Linked DNA regions of Homo sapiens: all the other regions are linked to region 1. Evidence: fine-mapped expression QTL. A gene starts in region 1. Each other region holds a variant in brackets. All regions are shown on one strand. Distances are between the middles of the regions. Region 1 holds the start of PDGFRL (platelet derived growth factor receptor like). Region 2 overlaps SLC7A2 (solute carrier family 7 member 2). Region 3 overlaps PDGFRL (platelet derived growth factor receptor like). Region 4 overlaps PDGFRL (platelet derived growth factor receptor like).

Region 1 (5,151 bases):
GCAAAATAAACCCAGGTTACTGAAGACCAGATTAGCATGGATCAAGGATCTCATGTTATTCAACAGAACTCGTTGCACAAATCAATATTAACACTTCAGTGTTTGCTCCTGACATTCAATAAAAATATGTAGGTAATCAAAAGTCAGGAAATATTTGTGATTTTATACTTTTCAATGTGAAAATAGAAGCACCCTATTAATAAACTCGGTGGCATGTATTCCATATAAATGCTGAAAATCAGGTGCTATGATTGACATCTCAACGTGGAATCTTGGATTATTTATTACCTGTTTTCATCCCTCAGTTTCATGCCATGAAGTATTATGTGCCTTTCCAGCTCCCCATCTTCATGAGGAGAAAGAACATTACTTCCAAAAATTTAAAGCATTTTGTCATTGGGAGCAGCCAGCTTCATTGGGTCACAGGCCAGATGTTCACCCCCATACACACTTGCAGGGAAGTCTTTTCCTCTTAGAAGGCTGTCTTTGGCTAGTTGTGGTGGCTAGCACAAGTGGAAGTCGCAGTGAGCTAAGATTGTGCCACTGCACTCCACCTGGGTGACATAGCAAGACTCCATCTCAATAATAATAATAATAATAATAATAATAACAATAATAATAAAATAATAATAAAGACTGTCTTTTAGATGTGATCAGAAAAACTAAAAGGCAGTGAAACAAGTTGAGTCATGGACCTTGTGTCTGTAATTTGTGCTTTGGGATGGCCTTGAAGGCAGGATATTCCCAACCTGCCAATCTGAGACCAGCACTGGAAGGGCCTCCTGTGTAATCCACTCTCCTTAGTAGCTCCTGGCCACAACTCACAACACAACTCAAAACCAAAAACCATTCTTAATAGGTTTAGCCAAACGGTTACATAACTTAATGAAGCACTGTGTGTTCACTATTGTATCCATAAATAGTCCATACATTATAGATATGTGTGCTTTTATTTTTATCTTTATTTTCTTGAGATGGAGTCTCACTTTGTCGCCCAGCTGGAGTGCAGTGGTGCGATCTCGGCTCACTGCAACCTCTGCCTCCCAGGTTCAAGCAGTTCTCTGCCTCACCCTCCCAAGTAGCTGGGATTACACGTGCCCACCACCACGCCCGGCTAATTTTTATATTTTTAGTAGAGACGGGGTTTCACCATCTTGGCCAGGCTGGTCTTGAACTCCTGACCTTGTGATCCACCTGCCTTGGCCTCCCAAAGTGCTGGGATTACAGGCATGAGCCACTGTGCCCGGCCAGATGTGTGTACTTTTATAAACAAAATCTTCGTGCTATTATCACCTAAAATTTATGAACTATTTCTTACATTCAGTCTGTATTCCACTTTCTCCAATTGTCTCATAAATGCTTATTGTTTGTATGGATTACACTTAAAGAAAGGGTAAATTTAGTCAGATGTTTGTAATAAACTCACATGGGCTGGGTGAGATCCAGGAGGCAGAATGGAAGTCAATTTCTGAGCCTCTAAGACTGGCAAGTTGGGTATAAACAAAGGAATGGCTGATTTGAAATTATTTTGCCTGGCCATCTCCTGCCCTATTCAAAAAATGATACTACAAATTACATTTCTGCCTTTTCAGCGGTTGCACACAAGGGCCTGCCAGGAGCATTTTAATATTGCATTTTACAAACTGAACTCATGGCAACTTCTCTCTGGGCAGAGTTAAGTGTTACTCTCCCAGTAGAAGCTCTGCCTACGTTTTATTAAGCAAAGCTCTAGGCTGAAGGACCCTCATGCTCAACTTCAAGTACCACGACTATCTTGGATTTTGCAAACTACAATGCGGTATTTTTTTGGCAAATGTAGTTTCCTAGGAAAGAAAGGAACTGGTCAGGATGAACGAGTGGATAAAAATGTGAGCCAGGTCGAGCTGGCTCCAGCATGAAGTTGCATAACAGCAAAAGCTACTTTTCCACTAAATCTAAGCAAAAATTGTGTTGTAGCCCAGGAATTTCAAGAGAGGGTTGAGGACACCAGGAGGCACCCAGATGAAACATGTACTGTACAAATAACACCCATGGAGTGAATAGAGCAAACAAAACATTTAAATGCTAACAATAATATATAATACACACCACAGTAATACACACACCCAGACACACAGAAAAATAACACCAGACCCTGTGGTCACGGGTGTACACGACAGGGTGGACCCAGGACAGGTACACATTCAAAAACGCGCAGCGGTCATGGTCCCATAAGCTGTACCAAAAAAATGCATTTTCTTCACCATTTCCCATCCAATTAGATAAATATAATAAGCCGTGGGCTTTTGATTCGTTTTGAAGTTTCATACACTGACATTTTTGTTCGAAGATCTAGGCAGATCTTGCAGGATTCAAGCAAAAGGTGGTAGACGAAAACACGCCCAGAACTGCGAGGGGAGGGGGAGGTCACCTGGAACTCTGCAACCGAATCAGCGATTGCCGAGCTTAGGTGGCACTCGCTCTCAGCAGCAGAGGTCCCAGCCACGCCGCTGGGAGGTGGAAGCGATCCGAGGCTCCCGCCCCACCTCCCAGACCGACACGTTGACACTGGGGGCTGGACCAGGCGCTGGCTGGGGATGCTTGGTTCGCCCGGAGATGGGGACTTGGAGAGGTCCTGGTGGGCTCCTAAGGGTCGGGGTAGCTGCCACCACCCCTAGAGGGCTCTCCGGGCAGGCAAAGAGTGGGAGGAAAGGAGACCCCACCAGGAGGGGGCAGGTGCACCGGGCAGGCAGTGGCGCGGGGGCTGAGCCACCGAGGGCCGAACGTTAGACCAAGAGCTGGCAGGAGGGCGGCGGGGGCTTCGGGTCCCGGCTAAAGTCAGGGCACAAGCTAGGTGGCCCCGCGCCCAGAGTCACTCACCATCCTCCAGCGCTTCGTGCACCAGCAGAAGACCAAGCAGCAGCCAGACCTTCATCTCGGGAACCTCGGACCTCGGAGCGCAGGAGCGCGGCGGCTGCGCGGGGCGGGGACGCAGGGGAGGCGGCGGGCGAGGGGCGGGCTCCTGGGACGCCGAAGCGGGAGGATTCGGTTTCTTCAGGAGGAACAAGGTTTGGGGGAAAAAGTTGGGGAATTTTTTTTTTTTTTAGTTCTCTGTGTAATGTGACTTCTCCTGCCCCCTGGCGGAGCCGCGGTGCGCAGCACTTCTTCCCAGCGCGGGGAGGAAAGGCTAAGCGTGAAATGTACATTACAACAGCCATTCCTTGAATTTCTCCAACGCTTGGCGTTTTCACCAAGGTTATCAAGTTCAAGAAGGATCAGCGGGTGCTGATGGGGTCACTTTTAACCACGATTGTCCAAATGTTACCAGCGCCCGCCCCACCTCCTCAGGCAGAACCTGAGTGCTCTGTAAAAAGTGCTTCCTAAATTATTTCTGTTCATTCCATTTCTCTCCCCCACATGCACTCACTCACAGGACCGTTGCCCCGGGTTCTTGCTGCTCCTCTGTGTCTGGCCAGAGTTGGTCTCCGCACCCAGCCCTGTAACTGCTGGTGGGGGTGGGAGGACGGGTTCATTACAGGAATAACGTGGAAAATGAGACTGTGCAGACAACCCGGGCCTCTGGTGGTGAGGCAGGAGAACAGGGAATTAGGGTAAGCACGGGCTAGGGTATGAGCAGGAGAACAGCAGGTGCAGCCAGTTCGCAGAAGCAAAAGATCAGCAGGTGCAGACAGTTCTAGGCATGATTAGGCGGCACACAGGCCACATCCTCGCTCCTCTGATAACAAGGCAGAAGTTTCCACTTCAGCCTCGGACTGGTCGCAGGCCAGTCCTTCGTAAGGTGTAACCAGTTGGAGGCCTCTAAAGGGAACCCAAGGGTGTTGCCAAGTTCTTTTCGCTTTATAAAATCCCTGGGGAGCGTCAGGCTCTTGTGGCTTGCTGCAGCGCCCTCTGTGAATTGTCTTCTATAAATCTACGTTTTCCTTCCTCCCTTCTGTTGCTTTGTTTTTCCTTGCTTCTTTCTTTCGTTACTCCGTGCATTTCGTTCAATTTTTTGTTCAACAGGCCAAGAACCTGGACAACTCTATCAGGTAACAGTGGGGCAGAAGATACGGGCTTTCACAAGTCCCTCTGCAGAGAGCCATCCTGCGTTTCTGAGCTTGCAGACTCTCATGATCAAAGCAGTTTGCTAGCGGGGGAGATGCCTGTGTGTGTTCCCCCGGTGAGAAGCAGCCCATCTCATTGTAATCTTCAGCACCAGGCACTGCTATTAAAGGGAGCTCAATTCTAAATAACAGGAAAGGGACTTGTCCCTCAACACCCAACGAAAGAAGTGCTGCCATTTATAACAAACTAATGCTTCTCAGTCACTTCTGCAGGAGGAACCAAGAATTCTATATTCTGTTGCCAGCTCTAGCCGGAGCTTTGCCACTCGCTTGCCTTGCGATGCAGAGAGCAGTTGGCTGGGAATAAAGACCAGAGTTCAGATGCTGACACTGGCACAAACTCTCCATGCCTCTCAGAATTCACTTAACCTTCTGGGTTTTAGCATCTCTTGTTTATTAAGAAAGGGAACTAGGTGATTATTTCAACAGGAGTTTGCTATGTGATTAACATTACGGCTATGAAGGTTGAGACATCATCTCTCATGGCTACTTTTAAGGAGTGAACAAGCATTTAGACCACTGCAATGTGGTGTGTCAGGTTCTGGGGAGAATTCTGAGCAAAGGACTTGGAGCATGCACACAGGAGAGAGTAAATCTGCCTAAATTGCCCCACCGTGAGATTTCTTTTCATTCTGACCCCATGAATTGACTGCTTAACTCTCACTCCATGTTGGAGCCTGGGGTTGGGTCTAGATTCCTCCTCTCGGTCGCAGTATCCCCTCCATGCTGACTATGCATGTGCCAGGTCCACCTCTCTTGTGCCATTATTGTCAAGCTTCACTGCCCTGGCTCAGCTACATTTAGCCGAGAGTCGTCCCTCTTTCTCTTGCCGCTTAGAGGCTCTTCTTGGGGGGCTGAGGCGAGAGAGTCATTTGAGCCTGGGAAGCGAGGTTGCAGTGAGCTGAGATGGCACCACTGCACTCCAGCCTGGGCGACAGAGAGAGACTGTCTCAAAATAAATAAATAATAAATAAATAAATAAAAGCAAAGAAGAGAGGCCTCAGAGAATACCCATTCTTCTGCCACCTTGCTCTCAGATTTCTGCCAT
Region 2 (5,151 bases), 69 kb after region 1:
CTCACTGATGAGCATTGGGTTGGTTCCATGTCTTTGCTATTGTAAACAGTGCTGCAATAAACATGGGTTTGGATGTGTTTTCCTAGTAGAATGATTTCTATTCCTTTGGGTATATACCCCATGATGGGACTGCTGGGCCAAATGGTATTTCATTTCTGGCTCTAGATCCTTGAGGAATGGCCACACTGTCTTCCATCAAAAAGCGGGCAAAAGATATGAACAGACACTTATCAAAGGAAGACATTCATGCAGCCAACAAACATATGATAAAAAGCTCAACATCACTGATCATTAGAGAAATGCAAATCAAAACCACAATGAGATACCATATCACACCAGTCAGAATGGTGACTATTAACAAGTCAAGAAACAATAGATGCTGGCAAGGCTGTGGAGAAATAGGAACGCTTTTACACTGTTGGTGGGAATGTAAATTAGTTCAGCCATTGTGGACGACAGTGTGCCAATTCTACAGCTTTTTTTCCTAGTTATAGATATTCTCAACATTTTACTGTTTTTAAATACATAAGTATTGTCATTTATGTTATCAGTTAGGCAATTTTGACGTTTCTGCAGATACTTTCGTACACAAAAAAAGGCCAGCTCACTCTTTTATTATTATTATTATTATTATTATTTGTTTATTTTGAGACAGAGTCTTGCTCTGTCACCCAGGCTGGAGTGCAGCGGTGCTATCTTGGCTCACTGCAACCTCTGCCTCCCAGGTTCAAGCGATGCTCCTGCCTTGGCCCCCCAAGTAGCTGGGATTACAGTCGCCTGCTATCACGCCCGGCTAATTTTCGTACGTTTAGTAGAGACGTGGTTTCATCATGTTGTTCAGGCTGGTCTCAAACTCCTGATCTCAAGTGATCCACCTGCCTTGGCCTCCCAAAGTGCTGGGGTTACAGGCGTGAGCCACTGTACCGGGCTTCAATTCACTCTTACATAATGCACATACCAATGAAAAATAGGTAGATACAGTTCTGCTTGAAATGAAACACACAGGCTTCTTCCGAACCCAGAATTTCATGATTTACTAAAGCTATTCATACTGCATATCATGTCTTTAGAGACGTGGAAGATTCCATTCAGCAAATAATTTCAGTAGCTGTTTTAGTGAAATGAACACTGGAAAAAGATTACTTTTCTCTACCATAAAACATTGTTCTGCATACATCACTTTGTTGGAGGCGAAAAAATAAAAATAAAAATGATTGCACTCTTGTTTCTCTTTTTATTGTACTTAATAATAATAAAGAAATTGTTGGGCGTGGTGGCTCCCGCCTGTCTTCCCAGCACTTTGGGAGGCCAAGGCGGGTGGATTACTTGAGGTCAGGAGTTCGGGACCAGCCTAGCCATCACGATGAAACCCTGTCTCTACTAAAAATACAAAAATTAGCCAGGTGTGGTGGTGGGCACCTGTAAACCCAGCTACTTGGGAGGGTGAGGCAGAAGAATCTCTTGAACCAGGGAGGCGGAGGTTGCAATGAGCCAAGATCACACCACTGCACTCCAACGGGCGACAGAGCGAAACTCTGTCTCAAAAGAAGAAGAAGAAGAATAAGGAAATTATACTTAGTTCAATAAAATGAGCACTTTTCTTCCAATTCTTGAAAATAGCCTGAATTCTGATTCATGGATACAAAGTTAGATTTCAGATTATATAGTTCAACTTTACTGATTTCTCTGGTCCAATATGCAATGCATTAAAATGACATGATGAAGGAAAGGCCCATTCTTTAAACAGATGACTCGAACTTTCAATTACAGTTGGTACCAACAACTACAGCTGATGTCTACAGTCCCCACTCCTAGAGCTGCCTCCACTTTAGTAATATCATTCGCCTGCCTTACACCACCAGCATCTCCAACTTTCACCAACACACGCCACAGGAGCTCACCACCAAAAGGCGGCAACGATCAATCAACTGAAAGTAAAACAAAATTAAAAATAAAAATTCAACTCTACTAAATACTTCAAAAACTGAGAGAAATAATGTGGGTCCTCAGGGTTTTTAAAATCCTTATAAAAACTAATATATTAACATACTACCATTACTAGTGGTTCGGTGAGATAAATCAGGCTTTCAATCTTCAGCCACTTGACCAATTTATCTTTTTTATTATTTGTTTATTTTTATTTTTATTTTTTTTGAGACAGAGTCTTGCTCTGTCTCGCAGGCTGGAGTGGTCTCGCCTCACTGTAACCTCCATCTCCCAGGTTCAAATGATTCTCATACCGCAGCCTCCTGAGCAGATAGGATTACAGGTGCCCACCACCACACCCAGCTAATTTTTGTATTTTTAGTAGAGATGTGGTTTCGCCATGTTGGCCAGGCTGGTCTTGAACTCCTGATCTCAGGTGATCTGCCTGCCTTGGCCTCCCAAAGTGCTGGGATTACAGGCATGAGCCACTGTGCCCGGCTCAATTGATCATTTTTAAAAGTAGACAGGGCATCCAACAATACCTAGAGTTAGCAATGCAGGAAGAATACAAAAATATTTTACATAATTTATAAGAGTAACAATAAGGTTGTTTGTCCTTCACATTTCTCTTGTACTCTGTAGCAAAAAAGACCAGAATAATGTAAATATGTTATTCATTATTCAAAAAGTTCATGTGATCCATTTCAGTAGAGAAAAAATGCACTATCAACAGGAATTTTCTGCCAAGTCTGCTCTTTTTTTGTTTGGTTCACTGAACTAAGTGCAAACCATCTGTTATCTATGATAATCAGAAAAAGTAAAAAATTCAAATAGCTTTTTTTTTTAAAAAAAAAGAGAGCACAATAGCACTCCAAACAGAACATACTTGTTTAAAAGCACCATTTATGAGGTTGAAACCCTAATGACTTTAAAAGTCTTTTTATTTTTAGATTAAGACTATATTTTCCCATTTTCTGGTAAAAGTATGCCATTTAATAAACTTGTTCATATCATAAGAATGTCACTCTACGAAAA[T/C]AGCTTATCCAAATATATTAATTTCCAAGAAATTTCAAAATCTAAAAACTTCCTTTTCCACTCTTCCTGTAACACTTATTTCTAAATGCACTTCATCAGCTTCAAATATCTCTTTGAAAAATAATTTAATAGCTCATCATGAAATCTTTAGGGCATATTTCTATTACATGTTATTGTTAAATTAACAGAGTTTTTAAAATTTACTCATTTGTATTTTTTCTTTTTTCACTGACATGTAATAATTGTACATATTTATAGGACACAGAATATTTCAATATGTATATACTATAAGCAATGATCAAATAAGGGTAATTTGCATATCCATCACTTCAAATATTTTTCATCTCTTTGCATTGTGGATGTTCAAAATCCTTTCTTCAAAAAATTTAAAAAGGCCAGGTACAGTGGCTTATGCCTATAATTCCTGCACTTTGGGAGGCCAAGGCGAGAAGATCATTTGAGGCCAGGAGTTCAAAACCAGCCTGGGCAACACAGTGAGACCCCCGTCTCCACACACACAAAAATAATAATAATGCACACACACACACACATTTAAATAGTTTCCAGCTTTTTAAAATTATATAATAAATTATAGTTAACCATTAAAATCTAAAAATGTTAAGTTGTAATTGTACTGATCCCCAATTTAAAAATTCCACATAGGCCAGACACAGTGGCTCACGCCTGTAATCGCAGCACTTTGTGGGGCCGAAGCGGGTGGATCACAAGGTCAGCAGATCAAGACCATCCTGGCCAACATAGTAAAACCCCATCTCTACTAAAATACAAAAAAAATTAGCCAGGCATGGTGGTGCCCGCCTATGGTCCCAGCTACCTGGGAGGCTGAGGCAGGGGAATCGCTTGAACCTGGGAGGTGGAGGTTGCAGTGAGCCAAGATTGCACCATTGCACTCCAGCCTGGCAACAGAGTGAGAGTCTGCCTCAAAAAAAAAAAAAAAAATTCCACAAATAAGTAGTGCATTCTAGTAATTATTATTTGTTTTCACAAAAACAGAATGGTCTGATTTTTCAACATGCTTGGACTCTAGTCTTCACTCTACCCCTAGCTGTCTAACCTCACATGAGCCGAGATTGCGCCACTGCACTCCAGACAGGCAACAAAGCAAGAGTCTGTCTCAAAAAAAAAAATTCCACAGAAGTAGTGCATTCTAGTAATTATTATTTGTTTTCACAAAAACAGAATGGTCTGACTTTTCAATATGCTTGGACTCCAGTCTTCACTGTATCCCTAGCTGTCTAACCTCAGATGAGTTACACCTCTCAAGATCTCAGTCTCTTAACCTATAAAAAGAGCGTTCTAAAATGTCATTCTGAGGCACTTACTTCTCTTCCATATTCGTCTAGCACCGTGCCAGAAACTTGATAACTGTCCACGGCGAGGGAGGCTAGAAAGGAACGTGTCCAAAGCCTCTGAAATTTCGCACAGGACAGTTTTAAATGTACTGTGAAGTTTACGCTTTAAAATACAAAACCAACTACCACAACAGTGTCTCACCATTTTTATAGTGATATAACCAAATGAATTTCCAGGACACCTAGACTTATTCATGTTATCAATCCTCTTTAAAGAAAATAGTGATTTTTGTTATAAAAATGAAATTCTGCTAAGTTTCAAGAGAGTTTAAAGCAGGCACCAGCCCAGCACTTGTTTTCACAGCTCTAGTACTACAAATTTTATCAACACCCACTATTGTCTCTGAATGGCATGTAAAAGTGCTCTGTGCTATGTTCTTGATGAATTGTACAGACACAAGTCCTACTCCACCTACACAACCACTATGCCACAAATGCAACGCATTTAAAAGAGGGCTTTCTTTTGCAATAAAACATTACAAATCCTAACTACAAGTAAAGCAAGTGTTGCAAGAGATAATTTTTCAGTAGCTAAATCAGCATTAAAATTCCTCACTTCGTCTCAATATTATACCTTAAGCATGTTATTAAACAAACATTAACTGTAAAAGGAAACGCTATGGGTTAGTTATTTTACATTGTAAAAACTGATAAGGCCCTGCAAGGATGCTTCCACTGGTCTTTAGTATGATTCAGTTCTACTCAACTGTAAGTTTATTAAATCTCAGAGATTTCTACAAGAATATCCGTATCAGACTGACATTGAACTGGCAAGATTAGATTTCAAATGTCACACTAAAGATGCTCCAATTTTAGA
Region 3 (5,151 bases), 52 kb before region 1:
TACAGTGTGGAAAATGGAGTGGAGAAAGAAAAGGTGGACATAGGGGAAATGAGAAGGTATTCACATAAGTCTAGGGCAGAGACAATGCTAGCTTGATCCCTTTTTTGCAGTGAGGATGGAGAGAAACAGTAGGATTTGAAAGTGATTTAATGAAAAAAGTAGAAAGGATCGGGAGGAGGAGGGAGGTTAGCTTGGCTTCCAGCCGCAGGCCTGACCCGTGGGTGAAGGTAGTGCCATCACCAAGGCAGAGGAGGAGGAAGAACCAGGTCCAGGGAGGATGGCACTGAGGCCAGGGATGGCACGCGGAGGATGGAGGACCCCGAAGCATCTCATTGCACACCTGAGGTGGACGGCGGACACGTGGACCTGATGCTCCTAGATCCGGCCACTTCCGTTCACTTGGGAGTTACCAGTGTACAGATGTGAAGCTGGCCCAGGGACAGAACAAGGAGTGGGAAAGAAGGGTGCCTGGGGGAGCACCAGCATTTCAAAGTTGATAGAAGGCTAAGAGCTGACCAAGAAGAGTGAGAAAGCTGTGGGGGAGGTGGGGGAAGCTGGGAAAAATGGAGCCAGGGCAGAGGCTGTTCCCTGCAGGTGAGGTGGAATCCAGGAGGACAGGGACAGACTTTAATGGCATGGGGGTCCCCGAGTACCTTGGCAATAGCCGTTTTGGTGGAAGTCAAGGGAGAAGGCCAGATGGGAGTGGGCAAAGGAGTGTGTGGGAGGAAAGGAAGTGGAGAGGGACATGGAGAGCTCTTTCATTCAGGGACTTGGTTCTAGTGGGGAAGAGTGGTGGGCTCAGCAAAACACTGGGGGAGGTGGAGCAGGGCTGTGAGAGGGATTTGGTAACAGGGTGTAAGGGGCATGGCCTGCTGAATAAGCACCATGGCTGAGAACACGAGGCATGACAGAACCCAAATTCTAACTTCAGAGAGCAGCTCACTCTCGGGGCTACTGATCCCCCCGACAGGGTGGCTGAGAAGCTCCACTGCAGGGGATGGACTCTGCCCACACGTACCACTCTCCCCTGGTCAAGGTGAGAGTTCTCGGAGAGACTAAAGTCACCTTTGAGGGACTACAGTGCCAGAAGAGAAACTATTTCCCCTCCTCCCTTGCAAGGCTGGCAAGAGGGTGCTTCACTCCAGAAAGGCGAGGGAGCGGCCTCAGAGAACTGCTTGCCAAGGAATGTGGGGGGTGTTGCAGCGTTCTGCAACGCAACTGCTCCTAGCCTGCCCCTATGCCATCAGCCCGGGGCAAAAGAGCTCTGGACAAGATGGCAGGGTGGGGGACTTCGAGAAGTAAAGAGGGCCCAGACTGTGTCTCCACTGTATGTTCTGGTGGCCACGTGCTCTGGAGTCAGGTGATCAGGTAGACACAGAGATGTCAGGACTCCAGGCTCTTTCAGCCATGCTGCAGCTCAGAGCAAAGAAGTTCATACAAGCAGAGGCAGCCTCCAGCTGAGGGTCCAGGAGAAGGCGAGGCTGCATGGGACAGGGCCTAGGACACCAAGGGGGCTTGTGACAGGTGAGTCCCTATCACCTGTGACAAACCACTGGAGTCACTATCTGTTCCCATCAGGCTAACAGACAACAAGCCAGGTCAGCATTTATTACCAGGGACTGCCAGCTCTCACTTACTTCCTCTGACCTCTCTCACTTACTTCCCCTAACCTGGTGCCCCAGCAGGGAGGGGAGGGGAGGGGAGGGGAGCGGAGGGAACTGTGGCCTCCGACTCAGAGCTGCTGCACTCACCATGGAGCCTGCATGTGACAGGAAGAGCAGAAAGCAGGCTTGGATGAATTGTTGGGACTGAAGATTTTAAACAAACAGTCTTAGAAACCAGAATGAGGCTGTCTTACTCACCCAGCAAGCCTGTTGGATATCAAAGGGAAACTCGACATGACCAACAGATCTCCCTACCCTCAGGAAAAGGGGGATTCAACACAATGGAACGGATGGCAGTTACCAGGGAAAAAAGTATTTCATGTATAAATGCTATGAAATGAAACTCCTCACTAAAATGGCCACATTGAAAGAAGTAGTTCCAATTTTAATTGAGAGACTGATCATGTTTCAGTTCTGTCAAGAGTAAGGGAGTAAGGCCAACTGGAAGAGAATGAGGCGGGAATTTGAGAACTCCAAGTGTTCTGTGCACATTGGGGAAAACAGAAGAAAGACGGGACAAAATGCAGAGGACACCAGGCAGGGTAGACGAGAGATGGGGGATTCATGGCCATGCCCTCTACCCTCCCATGGGAGTGTCCCAACAGCTCTTAACTCTCTGAGTACAGGCATGGGGAGAAGGTTAGTTGTGTTCATCCGGGGTGGTTCTTTCCTGGACAGGAGAGGGGAGTACAGAGAGGAGGGCGTGCCGGGTGTGGGTAGTGAGTACTGATGTGGTGGGACCCAGGATCTAAGCCTCATGGGTGGGGAGGGCAGAAAGCCCTCAAGAACAGGGTGGGTGCAGGTGAGGACTGTGGCTGAGGGAGTCATTGAACACAGAATCCTGGGAAAGTACAAGCCTGTGTCACTGGAGCTGGGGTCAGCCCCGGTGGTTGCTGTCACAGTGGTTGTGGTTGACATGTTCACATTGTGATGAGGGTGGGAATATCTGAGGTGGAACGGATGAGGGGTCCATGAACCTGGCCAGTGGGTACCAAGTCG[A/G]TATCAAAGTCACCCTAAAAATGGAGTGACAAGCAGGGCCATGAACCAAGTGCCAAAATGTTCGATGAATGCATGGGAGTGACAGGAAAGGAAATGAGAATGCTGGTAGAGCCCCCAAAGAGCAGAGGTTCCCAACAGAAGGGCAGAGAATGAGGGTTGGCAGGTGGCAATGGGTACAAGAAGGATGCCAGCCTTGACGTGGGAATGAATGATGTCCTTAGGAGACAGCAGATTTGGGTTTAGACCAAGAGGCTGGGAGGATGCTCTAAAGGAGTTTGGGGACATAGAAGACCTGATCCAACACAGAGGCAGCACCAGAGTGAACGATGGAAGGATTTGGCTGGAATGGAGAAGAGGGGTTTTCGGTCAGGGTCATAACAAGGAAGGAGAACATCCATCCTAGAAGTGGTGGGGCAGAAGGGAAGCCTTTAAGAACGGCATAAGTGGGCCGAGCATGGTGGCTCACACTTGTAATCTCGGCACTCTGGGAAGCTAAGATCAAAGGATTGTTTAAGCCCAGGAGGTCGAGACCAGCCCAGGCAAGGTAGGGAGACCTCTTCTCTATGAGACAAAAAAAAAAAAAAAAAAAAGTTAGCAGGGCATGGTGGCTCATACCTGTGGTTCCAGCTACTCAGGAGGCTAAGGAGGGAGGGTTGCTTGAGCCCAGGGCTTTAATGCTGCAGTGAGAAAATGGTTGTGCCACTGCATTCCAGCCTGGGCAACAAAACGGGACCCTGTCTCAAGAAAAAAGAGAAAAAAAAACAACAACAACCCAACAACAATGAAACAAAAGGCACTCATGGAGCTTCCTTATTCCATCTGCAGGCAGGGAACAGCAGTACCTGAAACTGACCAGGGGACTAACTAGAATCTAGGCAGGGGTGGCCAGGCTTACCCGCCACATAGAGCAGCTGGTACTTGACGGAGATCTGAGATCTGCCCCCGGCCTCCGCCCTGCAGTAAACCACACCCTGGTGCTCGGAATGAGGTTGCAGATACACAAAGCCCCGCTTCATGTCATAAACAATGTCCGTTCCATTGGCTGGGATCTCCTTGGCTGGGAATTCCCTGTGGAGCGTGACTTTGGCCGACAGCACGGTCACCCGACAAGGAACCACAGCCTGTCTGTCCGGGTTCAAGTAGACAACATCGAAGTAGCTGGGAGAAGGTACAAAGAGTTCTCCTTTCTCTGCAAAGGGAAGGAAGACACAGGCTTATTCACTCCGGAGACGCAAAGTAAAAGCACCCTTAAGGATTTTGGCAGCATACTCTGAATACTGAGTCCTTAGGAGTAGGAAAGGCCGGGTTTTCTTTTTTTACTTTAATGCTTTTCATTTTTTGGAAGAATGATTTAACTTCCTGTCTCCTTAAAGAAAACAGAAGGCTGGGCGCGGTAGCTCACACCTGTAATCCCAGCACTTTGGGAGGCTGAGGCGGGCAGATCACGAGGTCAGGAGATCGAGACCATCCTGGCTAACACGGTGAAACCCCATCTGTACTAAAAAAAACAAAAAATGAGCCGGGCATGGTGGCGGGCGCCTGTAGTCCCAGCTACTCGGGAGGCTGAGGCAGGAAAATGGCGTGAACCCGGGAGGCGGAGCTTGCAGTGAGCCGAGATAGCGCCACTGCACTCCAGCCTGGGCGACAGAGCCAGACTCCGTCTCAAAAAAAAAAAAAAAAAAAAAAGAAAGAAAGAAAACAGAAAAGGTATCAGTACAAGCCCAGATGACGCCCATGGATCACCACCATGAGGAAGCAAGGAACAAGATTTAAATTAAGATTTAACATATTAACCTTTAACAAGTTAAAGTTTAACATGCCCAGCCTTACTTCTTATACTATAATATATAGTTTGAAGTAAGTGACCACACTAGTTGCTTTAAAAATATATTTGCAATCTGGCCAGGCGTGGTGGCTCATGCCTGTAATCCTAGCACTTTGGGAGGCCGAGGCGGGTGGATCTCCTGAGCTCAGGAGTTCAAGACCAGCCTGGGCAACATGGTGAAACCCCGTCTCAACTAAAAATAAAAAAAAAAAAATTAGCTGAGTGTGGTGGTGCGCGCCTGTAGTCCCAGCTACATGGGAGGCTGAAGCATGAGAATTGCTTGAACCCAGGAGGCAGCAGAGGTTGCTGTGAGCTGAGATCATGCCACTGCACTCCAGCCTGGGCAACAGAGCAAGATTGCGTCTCAAAAAAAAAAAAAATTGCAATCGGTAGCTTCCATCAACAAAAAAATGTGTTAAAGCTCATTTGAATAATTATAGATTACATATGTCCCCTGAAAATGTATTTACATCCACTCATGTAGATGACACACGTATTACTTAAAGTAGACAAGCACATTGGATTTTAGATTTCCACAAAAAATCAAGCTAATAAGCTGTAAACTACATCCAAATTACAGCAAACTCAATATTTAGGAAAGCACTTACTAATGTGATTTTATGATTGTAAGTTTTAAACCCTTAGCAGTTGTAAAACCTTGAA
Region 4 (5,151 bases), 28 kb before region 1:
GTAGACTGCCTTTATATATACATTAAGCAAACGTTAATGCTATTTAGCGTGCATTCTCCTCAGCAGACCAACACTGAACTGAAGGCTGTGACACACTCGCTCTGGTCACCCCTCCGGCTCTTGTATGGGACAGTGCCTCCCTCTGCCTCCTTCCCCAGGATGCCTACCAGCTGATGTGATATATTGTGCCAATGCACGAGCCACCTGGGTAAATAAACGCATGAGGGCACGTTCAACATTGATTCACTTGTATCAATGTTGGTTGACTCACAGGGCCCCCAACCCCCTACCTTTTCCCAGCTATGAAGTCAAGTTCACAAACAACAGTGCTGTTACAGGGAAGGGTGAGCTGGTGCTTTCTGACCTCTGCTCCAATGTAACTGAGACACCAGATCTCATCTGGGATCTAGGCAGTGGGATGGAGAGAGAGGAGTGCTTTGGACAGTAGGATGTGGTCTGAAAGGCAGAGACCAGGGGCAAATCAGGATGAACTCCCAAAGGCAATCCAAGCAAAGTCTTTGAGCAGGAAGGCACCAAGCGAGGCAGGAGACAGGCCCCTGAGGCCCCAGGACAGAGTGGACAAGTTGGGAATGCAGGACGGGAAGTGACAAGAGAAGGTTCTGGGCGGACTCCCCAGGGCAGCAACTTAGCAGCTGCCCACCTGCAGCCGGCTGTGTGGGTGGGACGGAGCCGCCAAGGCAGCCAAGCCCGGACACTGGAGGCAAACCTCTGACATCTTCGTTTTGCTTTTTTATAAATGTGCCATTCTACACAATTATACACTAGTGGACATAAAATTTCCCATTTTACATCTTATCCTTTATTCCTCTTTTCTTGCTCCCTCCTTTGACATATCTTTCAAAGCTGTTTTATTTACATCTTCTATATTCAAATACTTGGCCAAAAATCATGCTACTAACACACCAGTGTTTACATTTGAGCATTAAATCCCAGACGTCACCCACATGTATACTTACTTGTTAAAGCAACATTTCACTCATAAAATACATGCAATCACTGGTACTATAAACAATGCTCCATCTTGCAAGATGCCCCAAAATTATCATCTAACATAGTTGGTGATATTCCTACAGTGTCTTTGGTTTAACGCACTAGCTTGACTGTATTGTCATTTTCTTACTGTATTTTAATTCTGTGCAACACATCTGGGATAATCAATCCTAGACTTACCAGAAATGCTCAAGAAATGAAATGTTTTGTTGAAAGAAACTTTTTTTGTTGTTTTTTTAAATACATATTTGGTGTAGGTAGAAACATTATTTTTAAGTAAGAGTTAGCAGAAGACGTTTTCCCCAAAACTATAGAACGTGCTTCAACCAATTTCCCCTACTCTAATGACTAGATCGACGAGCAATGGGTGATCTAGAGAACCTTGGGACCATTAGTATGAGCATCAGTGAGCCCTCCACAGTGCTATGGACACAAAGAGTTTGTAGGGGATTGAGACACACGTCTAAAACGTTTCTTAAAACGAAACTCGCAGGCCAAGGCAGGTGGATCACTTGAGGTCAGGAGTTTGAGACCAGCCTGGCCAACATGAGGAAACCCCATTTCCAATCAAAATACAAAAATTAGCAGGGCATGGTGGCATGCACCTGTAATCCCAGCTACTCAGGAGCCTGAGGCAGGAGAATTGCTTGAACCTGGGAGGTGGAGGTTGCAGTGAGCCCAGATTGCACCACTGCACTCCAGCCTGGGTGACAGAGCAAGACTCCGTCTCAAAAAAAAAAAAAAAAAAACAAAAAAACAAAAAACGAAAAACTGGCTGTTTCTTATGATTTACCTCCTTTGGGTACAGTATGGTGAACAGAAATAGCTCACCGATATTTAGGTGGCTTACTATGTGTGCCAAGAGGTTTACACGCATGACCTCATTCTATCCTGAGAACAGCACAATGAGCCTCGTTCTATTATTACCTGCCCCCCACCCTTGTCCTGAACGGAACATAGCTGTGTTTTTCTGCAAGCTGAACGCTCTCAGAACATTGAGTACACTGGGGGAAGTCTTGTATCCTGCAGCCTCCACCCAC[C/G]CATCTCTGGGGAAATACGGAGGGCCTGCAGCTGGTGCCAGTGAGTCTGGAAAGAGAACGCTCTACCTTCAGCATTGGTTAGGTCACCTATTTGTCATTTCTGGGGTGGAAGACCATTTGAAGGCAAGTATTAGAGTTTGGGGGTGGCGTTTCCTTTTGACTGGCCACTGCAAATTAGACCCCAATTGGACCCATGCTCCAGATAAGAATGAAGGCAAAGTGAGAGCCTCCTCATCTTCATTTGTTCTGCTCAGAAAATAAAATAAAACGAGCTTTGGAGGAAAGTGAGTTCGCATACAAAAGACACTCACATAATGATATGAATGCACTTAAGTGTACTGAACTATCTCCTTAAAAATGGTTAATATGGTAAATTGTACGTTCTGTGTATTTTCGAAAAATATAAATTATTTGAAAAAAAATACCTTACTCAGCATAACACCAGAGTACTCTCCACAACATTTACCAAAGTCTGTGCAGATTCTTTCTCAATGGTGGGATTCTTCTGTTGATAACCACTTAAGATATTTCTCCTTTTCTTTTAAAATGTCTTCCAGACTCTCCCTCCAGATGCTGGATGACATGATGAGCCTGGCTGGGAGCCCACTCTCTGCTCCATCGGCCCACCCTCCCTTTGTGTTGTCTGTGGGTGGAGTAAGCTGTTGCCAACCGTGGCCAAATGAAAAGCCCGATGCCCTCCCTTCTCTCTAAAAGCTATTTATTGTTTTCCGAGGAGCCAGCCATCAAAGAGATCTCCTGTGCCCCACGCACTCCTCCCAACTCCCAGTTTTTGACTGAAAAAATGCTAACATCCGACCAGATACCAGAAAAACATCCTGAAAGACAATGCCTGGACTCTTATTTCCTAGGGAGCAGGACCAGGGCTTATTACCACATCAGCCTATCTTGTTTTTACTGCTGTGATGTTGCTGACAACATAGCTGAAATCTCCAACGTCTCCTTGTTCCTACCAGCATTGATTGGTTATATTTAAGCCTTCGTCCAGACCCACTTATTCTCCGTTTCATCTCATTTTCTTCCCTGGCTCAGCGCGGTGCCAAGAATTCTCTGGCTTTACACCCTGGAAGTGTGTTATGATGAGATTCAAGAAACAAAATGTGTGCAGAGAAGATGCAAATGGGTCACGTTGATCTCCCAGCAGGGGTTATTCAGATAATCCAGAATATTCTTACACAAAGTTTTTAATATTATCAACAAAATGCAAGAAAAAATTTAAAAAATTATTGCAAAAAAGCATGAGGTCCAAGAACACATCTAAAGACCCCAGTTGGAGTGAAATGGGTATGGGGCATGGGGAGGAAGGATGGAGGCAACTGACACAGGAAGAGACATTGTCTTTCTTCTGAAGGCAATGAGGACGGCTAACCCTCACAATGCGGTTTATATTACTCAGCATCTTCTTTCAGTCTCTCTCCCTCCTTCCTTCCCTCTCCCTGTCTCTCTCTCTCCCTTCTTTCATTCTTTCTGGGACAGAGTCTCACTCTGTTGCCCAAGCTGGAGCGCAGTGGCATGATCTCAGCTCACTGCAGCCTCCACCTCCCAGAGTCAAGCAATCCTCCCACCTCAGCCTCCCAGGTAGCTACGACTATAGGCACACGCCACCATGCTCTGCTAATTTGTGTATCTTTTTTCGTAGAGATGGGGTCTTGCCATGTTGCCCAAGCTGGTCTCAAACTCCTGAGCTCAAGTGATTCACCCGCCTCAGCCTCCCAAAGGGCTGGAATTACAGGCGTGAGCCACCATGCCCAGCCATGCATTTTCTTTGTATACATATTTAGAAAGGCTTTAAATCCTCGACTCATAATTGCCCTAAATTTTGCTCTAAATTTTTTTTAAATTTTATTATTATTATACTTTAAGTTTTAGAGTACATGTGCATGACGTGCAGGTTTGTTACATATGTATACATGTGCCATGCTGGTATGCTGCACCCATTAACTCGTCATTTAGCATTAGGTATATCTCCTAATGCTATCCCTCTCCCATCCCCCCACCCCACAACAGTCCCCGGTATGTGAAGTTCCCCTTCCTGTGTCCATGCATTCTCGTTGTTCAATTCCTACCTATGAGTGAGAACATGCAGTGTTTGGTTTTTTGTCCTTACGACAGTTTGCTGAGAATGATGGTTTCCAGCTTCATCCATGTCCCTACAAAGGACATGAACTCATCATTTTTCATGGCTGCATAGTATTCCATGGTGTATATGTGCCACATTTTCTTAATCCAGTCTATCGCTGTTGGATATTTAGGTTGGTTCCAAGTCTTTGCTATTGTGAATAGTGCCGCTATAAACATACGTGTGCATGTGTCTTTATAGCAGCATGATTTATAACTCTTTGGGTATATACCCAGTAATGGGATGGCTGGGTCAAATGGTATTTCTAGTTCTAGATCCCTGAGGAATCGCCACACTGACTTCCACAATGGTTGAACTAGTTTACAGTCCCACCAACAGTGTAAAAGTGTTCCTATTACTCCACATCCTCTCCAGCACTCTAAATTTCTTAATGTGGCCAACAAGGCCCTCCATGGTCTGCCTCACCTCCCATCATCATCTCTCCTCCTAACCTCCTTCCCACTCCCTCGCCTCTGACCGCCACATCTTACCCACCTGCCCTTCATGCTCCAAGTTTTATACTCTTTCCCACTTCTAGGTACTTCCTTCAAACACTTCTCTCTTTCTGGAATTTCCTTATATCTTGCTATGCCCTTCCTTACCCAGGGAACTTTCAAATATGAGCTTGAGTTTCCTCCTCCTTGACAGCATACTTCGGTTAGCAAGGCACTTGCTAACAGACTTTAATATTTTATTAAAATTGCTTATTTAATTGTCTTCCCTAAGATTAAAAGATCTATGGGATATAGAGATTTTATCTATTTTGCTCACCATCTTATCTCCATCATCTGCCTAGCAGAGACCACAAACATAGTAGATGCTTATGATAAAACAGTGGGAAGAAAGGAACAGGGCAGAGGAGTCAAGAAACAGAGTGTTCGACAAATGATAACTACTGTTGTCAGAAACAGTACCTTTGCTATTTCCGATCTCAAAGACAGGAGATGTTTATGGGATCTGGGA

Evidence for each region.
Region 2: its variant is fine-mapped to the expression of PDGFRL in aorta (GTEx, PIP above 0.99).
Region 3: its variant is fine-mapped to the expression of PDGFRL in aorta (GTEx, PIP above 0.99).
Region 4: its variant is fine-mapped to the expression of PDGFRL in fibroblasts (GTEx, PIP above 0.99).

The regions. Positions count from the first base shown.
Region 1 is chr8:17,575,016-17,580,166 of GRCh38, reverse strand. PDGFRL (platelet derived growth factor receptor like) reads right to left here and starts at 2,951. Exons shown (of 6, transcript NM_001372073.1): 1 at 2,860-2,951. The coding sequence starts at 2,914. RefSeq lists silencers at 2,546-2,595, 2,686-2,745.
Region 2 is chr8:17,505,717-17,510,867 of GRCh38, reverse strand. The region is part of intron 2 of SLC7A2 (solute carrier family 7 member 2); the gene reads right to left. Among named protein-coding and RNA genes, the nearest start is that of SLC7A2, 11 kb to the right of the region's middle. The variant T/C (reference allele first, on the strand shown) is at 2,962.
Region 3 is chr8:17,627,188-17,632,338 of GRCh38, reverse strand. PDGFRL (platelet derived growth factor receptor like) reads right to left here. Exons shown (of 6, transcript NM_001372073.1): 4 at 3,559-3,852. Among named protein-coding and RNA genes, the nearest start is that of MIR548V, 52 kb to the left of the region's middle. The variant A/G (reference allele first, on the strand shown) is at 2,664.
Region 4 is chr8:17,603,504-17,608,654 of GRCh38, reverse strand. The region is part of intron 2 of PDGFRL (platelet derived growth factor receptor like); the gene reads right to left. LOC107986919 (a long non-coding RNA gene) reads left to right here. Exons shown (of 2, transcript XR_001745819.2): 2 at 2,609-3,009. Among named protein-coding and RNA genes, the nearest start is that of PDGFRL, 29 kb to the right of the region's middle. The variant C/G (reference allele first, on the strand shown) is at 2,052.